3 separate regions of the Homo sapiens genome follow, and regions 1 and 2 are each linked to region 3. The links come from fine-mapping of genetic effects on gene expression. A gene starts in region 3. Each other region holds a variant in brackets. All regions are shown on one strand. Distances are between the middles of the regions. Region 1 overlaps GABRR3 (gamma-aminobutyric acid type A receptor subunit rho3). Region 2 overlaps CRYBG3 (crystallin beta-gamma domain containing 3). Region 3 holds the start of RIOX2 (ribosomal oxygenase 2).

The links. PIP is the estimated chance that this variant, and not a neighbour inherited with it, causes the effect.
Region 1: its variant is fine-mapped to the expression of RIOX2 in blood mononuclear cells (TOPMed, PIP above 0.99). The same link has a PIP of 0.9 or more in T cells and whole blood.
Region 2: its variant is fine-mapped to the expression of RIOX2 in whole blood (INTERVAL, PIP 0.95).

Annotation. Positions count from the first base shown.
Region 1 is chr3:98,002,416-98,004,915 of GRCh38, reverse strand. All of the region lies in intron 7 of GABRR3 (gamma-aminobutyric acid type A receptor subunit rho3), which reads left to right. Among named protein-coding and RNA genes, the nearest start is that of RIOX2, 31 kb to the right of the region's middle. The variant A/G (reference allele first, on the strand shown) is at 1,418.
Region 2 is chr3:97,907,663-97,910,510 of GRCh38, reverse strand. The region is part of intron 15 of CRYBG3 (crystallin beta-gamma domain containing 3); the gene reads right to left. Among named protein-coding and RNA genes, the nearest start is that of RIOX2, 63 kb to the left of the region's middle. RefSeq lists enhancers at 1-58, 59-649. The variant G/A (reference allele first, on the strand shown) is at 1,437.
Region 3 is chr3:97,970,830-97,973,677 of GRCh38, reverse strand. RIOX2 (ribosomal oxygenase 2) reads left to right here and starts at 1,247. Exons shown (of 10, transcript NM_153182.4): 1 at 1,247-1,297. LOC124909398 (a long non-coding RNA gene) reads right to left here and starts at 1,025. Exons shown (of 2, transcript XR_007095976.1): 1 at 1-1,025. RefSeq lists a silencer at 1,063-1,502 and an enhancer at 1,773-2,032.

The DNA of each region.
Region 1 (2,500 bases), 31 kb before region 3:
TCTGACAAACTCAAGTGTCTTTTTCAGACTAGTTTCCTGTTTAAATATTTTAGCTTCCTCAAAAATAATTTTTGATTTGTTTTCTTCACTCCTATCCTTACAACTACCAGCCACAACCACCACTCCCAGGTGTATAGAAAAACTATACATCTGACTCTGGCTATAAGAGTCAGAAATATAGTTATAGGACCTTAGTTTCCATTTTACAGCTGAACAACAGGGTGTTTTTTTTTTTTTCTTGGCCTTCACCACTACCGTTGCCACTGTTCAAAAATCACCACGACCTGGCAATATTAACAAGCAGATGAGGGCTTCTGCCTCCTGATCCCTTTCTCAAAATTCTCAAAATCATGCACTATAAATTTACAAAGAAAAAAGAAATGACTCCTGCCCCTAAGGGATGCATTGAATAATTATTCTTTATCATAGCATAATCTAATGGCTGAATGTGTAAGTAGTAGAAACAGACTGCCTAAGTTCAAACCCTGTCTCTATCATTTATTAGCAACCTGACCTTGGACAAGTTGCTTAATCTCTCTAACCCTTAACTTTCTCATCTTTAAATGGGTTTCATAATACTCTCTATATCATAGGGTTGTGAGGATACATGATGTCATATAGTTAAGTACCTTAGAATGTTATCTGCCATATAATAGAGGCTCAATAAATATTAGTTAGTAGCTGTCATCATCACCCTATTTTCATCCACATTATTTTGATCCTTTTCATAGAGAGTATTAAGGCCTACTTTCAAAGGGCCATTGAAGGTGACTGTCTCTAGGTATAAAAACCTTCTTTATTCTTGTCTTGGGACTGACTCCCCAAATACTGGCCCAGTCCTCCATTTCCCTGGGTGCCAACTCTCTAGCCTTTTTCTCTCTGTTATTAACTCCTCTTCTTTCTACTGTATGGCAAACTAATGGAGGCAGATGTACCCGTCCCCATCCAAAATTTAGTTCAGATGCCAAAACTGATGATGCCATACACATGACAAAAGGGTATGAAGTGATTTATTACTTACATAATGAGGCTTTCTAGAGAGAGATGGGCAGGCTCCCAAGCAGGTCTGAAATGAAAAATGGCTTGAGAAAACAGGAAGGGGCTACTGGCTTGGGTTTTTATGGTAGCTAGGGGGTGCAGCTAGGGTGAAGGCTGCCTGTCGTAGGACAAGATGCATGGTTTGAACTTTTCACAGGTGCCAAAAAGAGACCTAGGCTTTTTATTAACTTGCTCAGATGTAGGGCAGAAGGAGAAGTTGGGCTTGAGAGCTTTTAGCAGTCAAACATCAAAAATAGAATCAGACTTTTTATTGTACTACCCAAAATGAAGGCTTCACAACGTTCCAAGGCAGCACCACCTTTCCTGATAGGGAAATGGACTCCCCATGACCTGCAGGTTCAACTAAAATACCACCCCT[A/G]GTCTAAAACCACAAGACAGAGCCACAGTTTGACTTCCTGGTTACTCCACCCTGCCCCCACCCCACCAAAAAAAAAAAAAAAGGACAACTGTTCTTCAGAAAATTATGAATAAAGAAAGGATGCAGTTAACTAATTTTATTTCAAGTTAATAATGAACAGAAAACTATATACCTTAATACTGTCTTTCTTTTGAATTTCTTTCACAGGTTTTCCTTATTTCTTTTAACCTCACAGTAGTTATATAAAGTTGTAAGGTCAGAAAGCTGTTATTGTACTCTACAGCCATCACTGAAACTCTCAGTGGTACACAGTAATAAATTGGGGCTGTGATGTAGGTGATACAAGACAATGAGAAGCTTAAAAATAATTTATATTTTAACTTTATAATGTACTATGTGATGTATATTTTATTACTCCTGGTAATAAAATTGTTTGGTATTCCTGAACATATATAAACTGACTGTTAGAAGCTTAGAACTAGGTAAGGAAGAAAAAGATAATGAGTATTTCATTGAGAATAGGATTCTAAGAGTAGAGTCTGCCAGTTCAGTGTGGGTTGGCCAGGTGTATTTCTTAGGCCAAATGCCTAAGTACTTAAGTGATCCATCTAATAGGTTTGCCGTCTTGGGTTTCTAAGAAATTACTGCTGAGACTAGCAGAAGGGTTTTCCAACTCTGCAATACCTATGATTTTTATTTTATAACTTTTGACCTATAGTCCCTGTGTTTTGAATAATGTTATTTGAAAATAAACAGCATTTATCATAGAAAAAAAATCTTGCTACTTATTCAGAAAAGATGTATTTCCATGTTTCCTCATGTATTGCCTTATTTTAGTAAAGATTTAACAAGATTAGCACATAGTTATTGTGAAATAAAGCAAGGTAATATAAATTAGAAATGTATGAGAAAAAAAAGAAAAACAAGGATAAGGTATTATATATATCCTGGTATGTGTATGTGGTCATTAAAGAATGGTGCTCAGAGAAGTCCTGTAGATGTCTGAAAATTTGGCTTTAAACTTCCTTGTAGTCAATGGGAGAGGTAAACCTGAACAAAATGTGTGTGTGGATGTCACCACAA
Region 2 (2,848 bases), 63 kb after region 3:
AAAATCGGTTCACTCCCACCCTAATACTGCACTTTTCCGGCGGGCTTAAAAAACGGTACACCACGAGATTATATCCTGCACCTGGCTCGGAGGGTCCTACGCCCACAGAGTCTCGCTGATTGCTAGCACAGCAGTCTGAGAACAAACTGCAAGGCGGCAGCCAGGCTGGGGGAGGGGTGCCCGCCATTGCCCAGGCTTGATTAGGTAAACAAAGCAGCCAGGAAGCTCGAACTGGGTGGAGCCCACCACAGCTCAAGGAGGCCTGCCTGCCTCTGTAGGCTCCACCTCTGGGGGCAGGGCACAGACAAACAAAAAGACAGCAGTAACCTCTGCAGACTTAAATGTCCCTGTCTGACAGCTTTGAAGAGAGCAGTGGTTCTCTCAGCACGCAGCTGGAGATCTGAGAACGGGCAGACTGCCTCCTCAAGTGGGTCCCTGACCCCTGACCCCTGAGCAGCCTAACTGGGAGGCACCCCCAGGCAGGGGCACACTGACACCTCACACGGCAGGGTATTCCAACAGACCTGCAGCTGAGGGTCCTGTCTGTTAGAAGGAAAACTAACAAACAGAAAGGACATCCACACCAAAAACCCATCTGTACATCACCATCATCAAAGACCAAAAGTAGATAAAACCACAAAGATGGGGAAAAAACAGAACAGAAAAACTGGAAACTCTAAAAAGCAGAGCGCCTCTCCTCCTCCAAAGGAACGCAGTTCCTCACCAGCAACGGAACAAAGCTGGATGGAGAATGACTTTGACGAGCTGAGAGAAGAAGGCTTCAGACGATCAAATTACTCTGAGCTACGGGAGGACATTCAAACTGAAGGCAAAGAAGTTGAAAACTTTGAAAAAAATTTAGAAGAATGTATAACTAGAATAACCAATACAGAGAAGTGCTTAAAGGAGCTGATGGAGCTGAAAACCAAGGCTCGAGAACTACGTGAAGAATGCAGAAGCCTCAGGAGCCAATGCAATCAACTGGAAGAAAGGGTATCAGCGATGGAAGATGAAATGAATGAAATGAAGCGAGAAGGGAAGTTTAGAGAAAAAAGAATAAAAAGAAATGAGCAAAGCCTCCAAGAAATATGGGACTATGTGAAAAGACCAAATCTATGTCTGATTGGTGTACCTGAAAGTGATGGGGAGAATGGAACCAAGTTGGAAAACACTCTGCAGGATATTATCCAGGAGAACTTCCCCAATCTAGCAAGGCAGGCCAACGTTCAGATTCAGGAAATACAGAGAACGCCACAAAGATACTCCTTGAGAAGAGCAACTCCAAGACACATAATTGTCAGATTCACCAAAGTTGAAATGAAGGAAAAAATGTTAAGGGCAGCCAGAGAGAAAGGTCGGGTTACCCTCAAAGGGAAGCCCATCAGACTAACAGAGGATCTCTCGGCAGAAACCCTACAAGCCAGAGGGGAGTGGGG[G/A]CCAATATTCAACATTCTTAAAGAAAAGAATTTTCAACCCAGAATTTCATATCCAGCCAAACTAAGCTTCATAAGTGAAGGAGAAATAAAATACTTTACAGACAAGCATATGCTGAGAGATTTTGTCACCACCAGGCCTGCCCTAAAAGAGCTCCTGAAGGAAGCGCTAAACATGGAAAGGAACAACCAGTACCAGCCGCTGCAAAATCATGCCAAAATGTAACGACCATCCAGACTAGGAAGAAACTGCATCAACTAATGAGCAAAATAACCAGCTAACATCATAATGACAGGATCAAGTTCACACATAACAATATTAACTTTAAATATAAATGGACTAAATGCTCCAATTAAAAGACACAGACTGGCAAATTGGATAAAGAGTCAAGACCCATCAGTGTGCTGTATTCAGGAAACCCATCTCATGTGCAGAGACACACATAGGCTCAAAATAAAAGGATGGAGGAAGATCTATGAAGCAAATGGAAAACAAAAAAAGGCAGGGGTTGCAATCCTAGTCTCTGATAAAACAGACTTTAAACCAACAAAGATCAAAAAAGACAAAGAAGGCCAATACATAATGGTAAGGGGATCAATTCAACAAGAAGAGCTAACTGTCCTAAATATATATGCACCCAATACAGGAGCACCAAGATTCATAAAGCAAGTCCTGAGTGACCTAAAAAGAGACTTAGACTCCCACATATTAATAATGGGAGACTTTAACACCCCACTGTCAACATTAGACAGATCAACGAGACTGAAAGTCAACAAGGATACCCAGGAATTGAACTCAGCTCTGCACCAAGCGGACCTAATAGACATCTACAGAACTCTCCACCCCAAATCAACAGAATATACATTTTTTTCAGCACCACAACACACCTATTCCAAAATTGACCACATACTTGGAAGTAAAGCTCTCCTCAGCAAATGTAAAAGAATAGAAATAATAACAAACTATCTCTCAGACCACAGTGCAATCAAACTAGACCTCAGGATTAGGAATCTCACTCAAAACCTCTCAACTACATGGAAACTGAACAACCTGCTCCTGAATGACTACTGGGTACATAACAAAATGAAGGCAGAAATAAAGATGTTCTTTGAAACCAACGGGAACAAAGACACAACATACCAGAATCTCTGGGACGCATTCAAAGCAGTGTGTAGAGGGAAATTTATAGCACTAAATGCCCACAAGAGAAAGCAGGAAAGATCCAAAATTGACACCCTAACATCACAATTAAAAGAACTAGAAAAGCAAGAGCAAACACATTCAAAAGCTAGCAGAAGGCAAGAAATAACTAAAATCACAGCAGAACTGAAGGAAATAGAGACACAAAACACCCTTCAAAAAATTAATGAATCCAGGAGCTGGTTTTTTGAAAGGATCAACAAAATTGATAGAC
Region 3 (2,848 bases):
TACCCTGTAAGGGCTAAATTTGATGTTACCCTCGAGTTTTTCCAACTGGAACCTGCCAGGAAACTTACTAGTTATACGAGTATTAGTAAAACGTGAAAAAGACCAACAGTTGACTGACTGGTTTGGCTCTAATCTTGTTTCTGCATCTTCCTAGCTGTGTGATCTTGTGCAAGTTAGTTAACCTCTCCTGACTCAGTTTCCTCAACTGTAAAATGGAGGTAATTGCAAGGTTGTAGTGAGGATGAAGTGAGGAGTATTTGAAACACCTAGCGTGGTGCCTTATAGCCAGGAAGAACTCAATTCAAGACTTGCTATTATTGTTAGTTTTAGACAAATACTAGACAAGGGTGTACTTTGTTCCCATTTGTTCATGTGCCACTTGATCCTTAGAAGCAGCCACTGGTCTCAGTCACCTTGACGGAACGAAATGTCGACTTCCTCTGGGTCCTCTGGCTGTCTACAGAGCAAAGAAAGGCACAGGCCCGCCACTGATTTCCCTGCTCCCTCATTTGTGCCTCCTGACTGGAACCAAATGTTCCAAAGCAGGGAGTGTTAGGCTGAAAGGACTCAGATAACTGCATTTCTTCTGTTTCTATAGCCATAGTCGCAACGAATTTCCAGTATCTTTTAAAACTAGGATTGACTCTCTCTCCCGGAGCGAGATGATATAAATGACACTCGGCTTGTACAAATCAGCATTGTGTAGCCACACAGCCCATAAGAAAGCCATGGGAGAACCCGGACCACCAACTCCCTAAACTTGCACCGCTGGTATTCCTCTTCAGGCCTGCTTCTCTATTCATAAAAGGAACGGAGTTGCACCAAAACGCTCTCTCAAATCCTCTCCTGCCGCCCCAAGTTAAAAGAAAAAAAAGGAGAGCCGGGTGGGTGGCTCACACCTATAATCCAGCACTTTGGGAGGCCGAGGCAGGAGGATCGCTTGAGCCCGGGAGGTAAAGGTTGCAGTGAGCCAAGATCGCTACCACTGCACTCCAGCCTGGGCGAGAGTGAGACCTTGTCTCACATACCATAAAAAAAAAAAAAAAAAAAAAAAAAAAAAAAAAAAGAGGAAAAAAAAGGCCATTTATTTCCTTCCATATGGACTAAAGAAACGCCCGGGCGTGAACGCGGAACACCGCCGGGTAGCCAGGCCTCCGGGCTGCCACCACTTGCGGGCCGGCGTGGCGGGGCGGGGCGGGGGCTGGAGCACGGCCCGGAGCGTGCCCACGCTGCCCCGCCTCCAGCCGCTGCGCCGCAACGCAGTGGGCTCGCGGCCGCGAGCAACAGGCCGTGCCGGGTGAGTGGGGCGCTCTCGTGGGCATCCCAGCGCCGGGGCAGGCCGGGTAGTGCCCGATCCCGCGGGGCGCGCGCTGCTGCTTTAGGCACCCGGGCTCGGGTGCGGGTCTGGGAGACCTGTCGGTCGGCGAGAAGCCTCGGTGGCCGGCGCTGTGGTTGCGGGACCTGGGACGCGCTCCCAGGCGTCCCACCTCCCCGGAGACTGGGGCAGGGTGGGTGGGGCCCGGATCTAGGGGTAGGGTCGCGGAAGCCTTGGTTACAGAGAGTCGCACACGTGGCCTGCTAATGGTCGCGACACCGGTGACGAGCGCACGGAAAGTTTGGAGGCTTAGCAAGGAGGGTGGTGCCGGCCTCCGCCCGGTGGTGGCAGAACTGCCTGTGCGAGCACGGCTTCCACGTGGGCTGCGCCGCCGGGCGTCATGTCGGGCCTAAGAGACACGCTCTACAGCTGTGAAATCTGAAGTTCAGGTGTGTGGGGAGAAGGGCAGCTGCATTACATCATATGCTTCCAATTCATTTACCAGCAAATAATTCCGCAACGATTGGCCGACAGCTGGGTTGTCCAACAGGTTACTGAGACCAGGTTATTCACTGTTTTCAGGAAGGATAGACTGGGAGGAAGAGGATCTGATTTCGCCACTCATTAGCTGTAAATCTGGTGCCTCGGGTTTCATGTCACTGGGCTCATCTTTGAGCAGAGGAACCTGATTTACTCAGCTTCTTCTGCTGGTACTGGTTTTTGCCTCCTGGACATCAAGCTTTGTAACCTCATGGTCACGAAAATACATTGAGGTATAGTCCGTTTCCTCTCTAAAATCAGACTAAAAAGATAACTGCTGATCACTCCTTTAGGTCAATAGGAGAACCAGTTTTCCCTCTGGATTGATTAACATATCTCTGAGCCAAAAAGAAATGTTTTAGATCAGTCTGGGCAACCTTGTTACAAGCAATATATAATTTCTGACAGCCGTGTGTTTAACTGAGCTGCGTTTGACTGTTGTCCTCCATTAGTGGACCTAAAATTCATCTAGAGAGCGTATTACGTTAATGCAGATTATGGGCCTCAGCCATCAGAAGTGGCAATCCAGTGGGCTTGATGAGGGCCCAGAAATTTGCATGCTAACAACCTTGCTGGTAACTCTGAACTACATTCTGTAAAACTGCCCAGGGGATGTAGAAATTCATACTTCCCTCCCCGATTTAGTAATAACTACTGATGTCTAAAGTGCCTTTTAGCTTTTACGATACTCTTGAATCCTGAAGTGACAGCTGCAATCAGAAAAATAATCCCCTCTGCACAGGCCATCTGTTTTTTCCGTAACTGTTTTGTGTAAGGCCTTTGTGGTTTGTCTCCAAAATTGTATACAGACAAAAGATGAAAATGTGAAAAATTCAGCAGACATTTCTTGAGGACCTCCTATGTACCACACCGTGCTTGTTTCCGGGGATATACAAATCCTTTCCTTCAAGAGCTTCCTCACGTCTTCATGTCCTCAAATATTATAGAAAAGGAGGTTAGGGTACCTTTAAAATATAGTGACTGTCTGTCTGT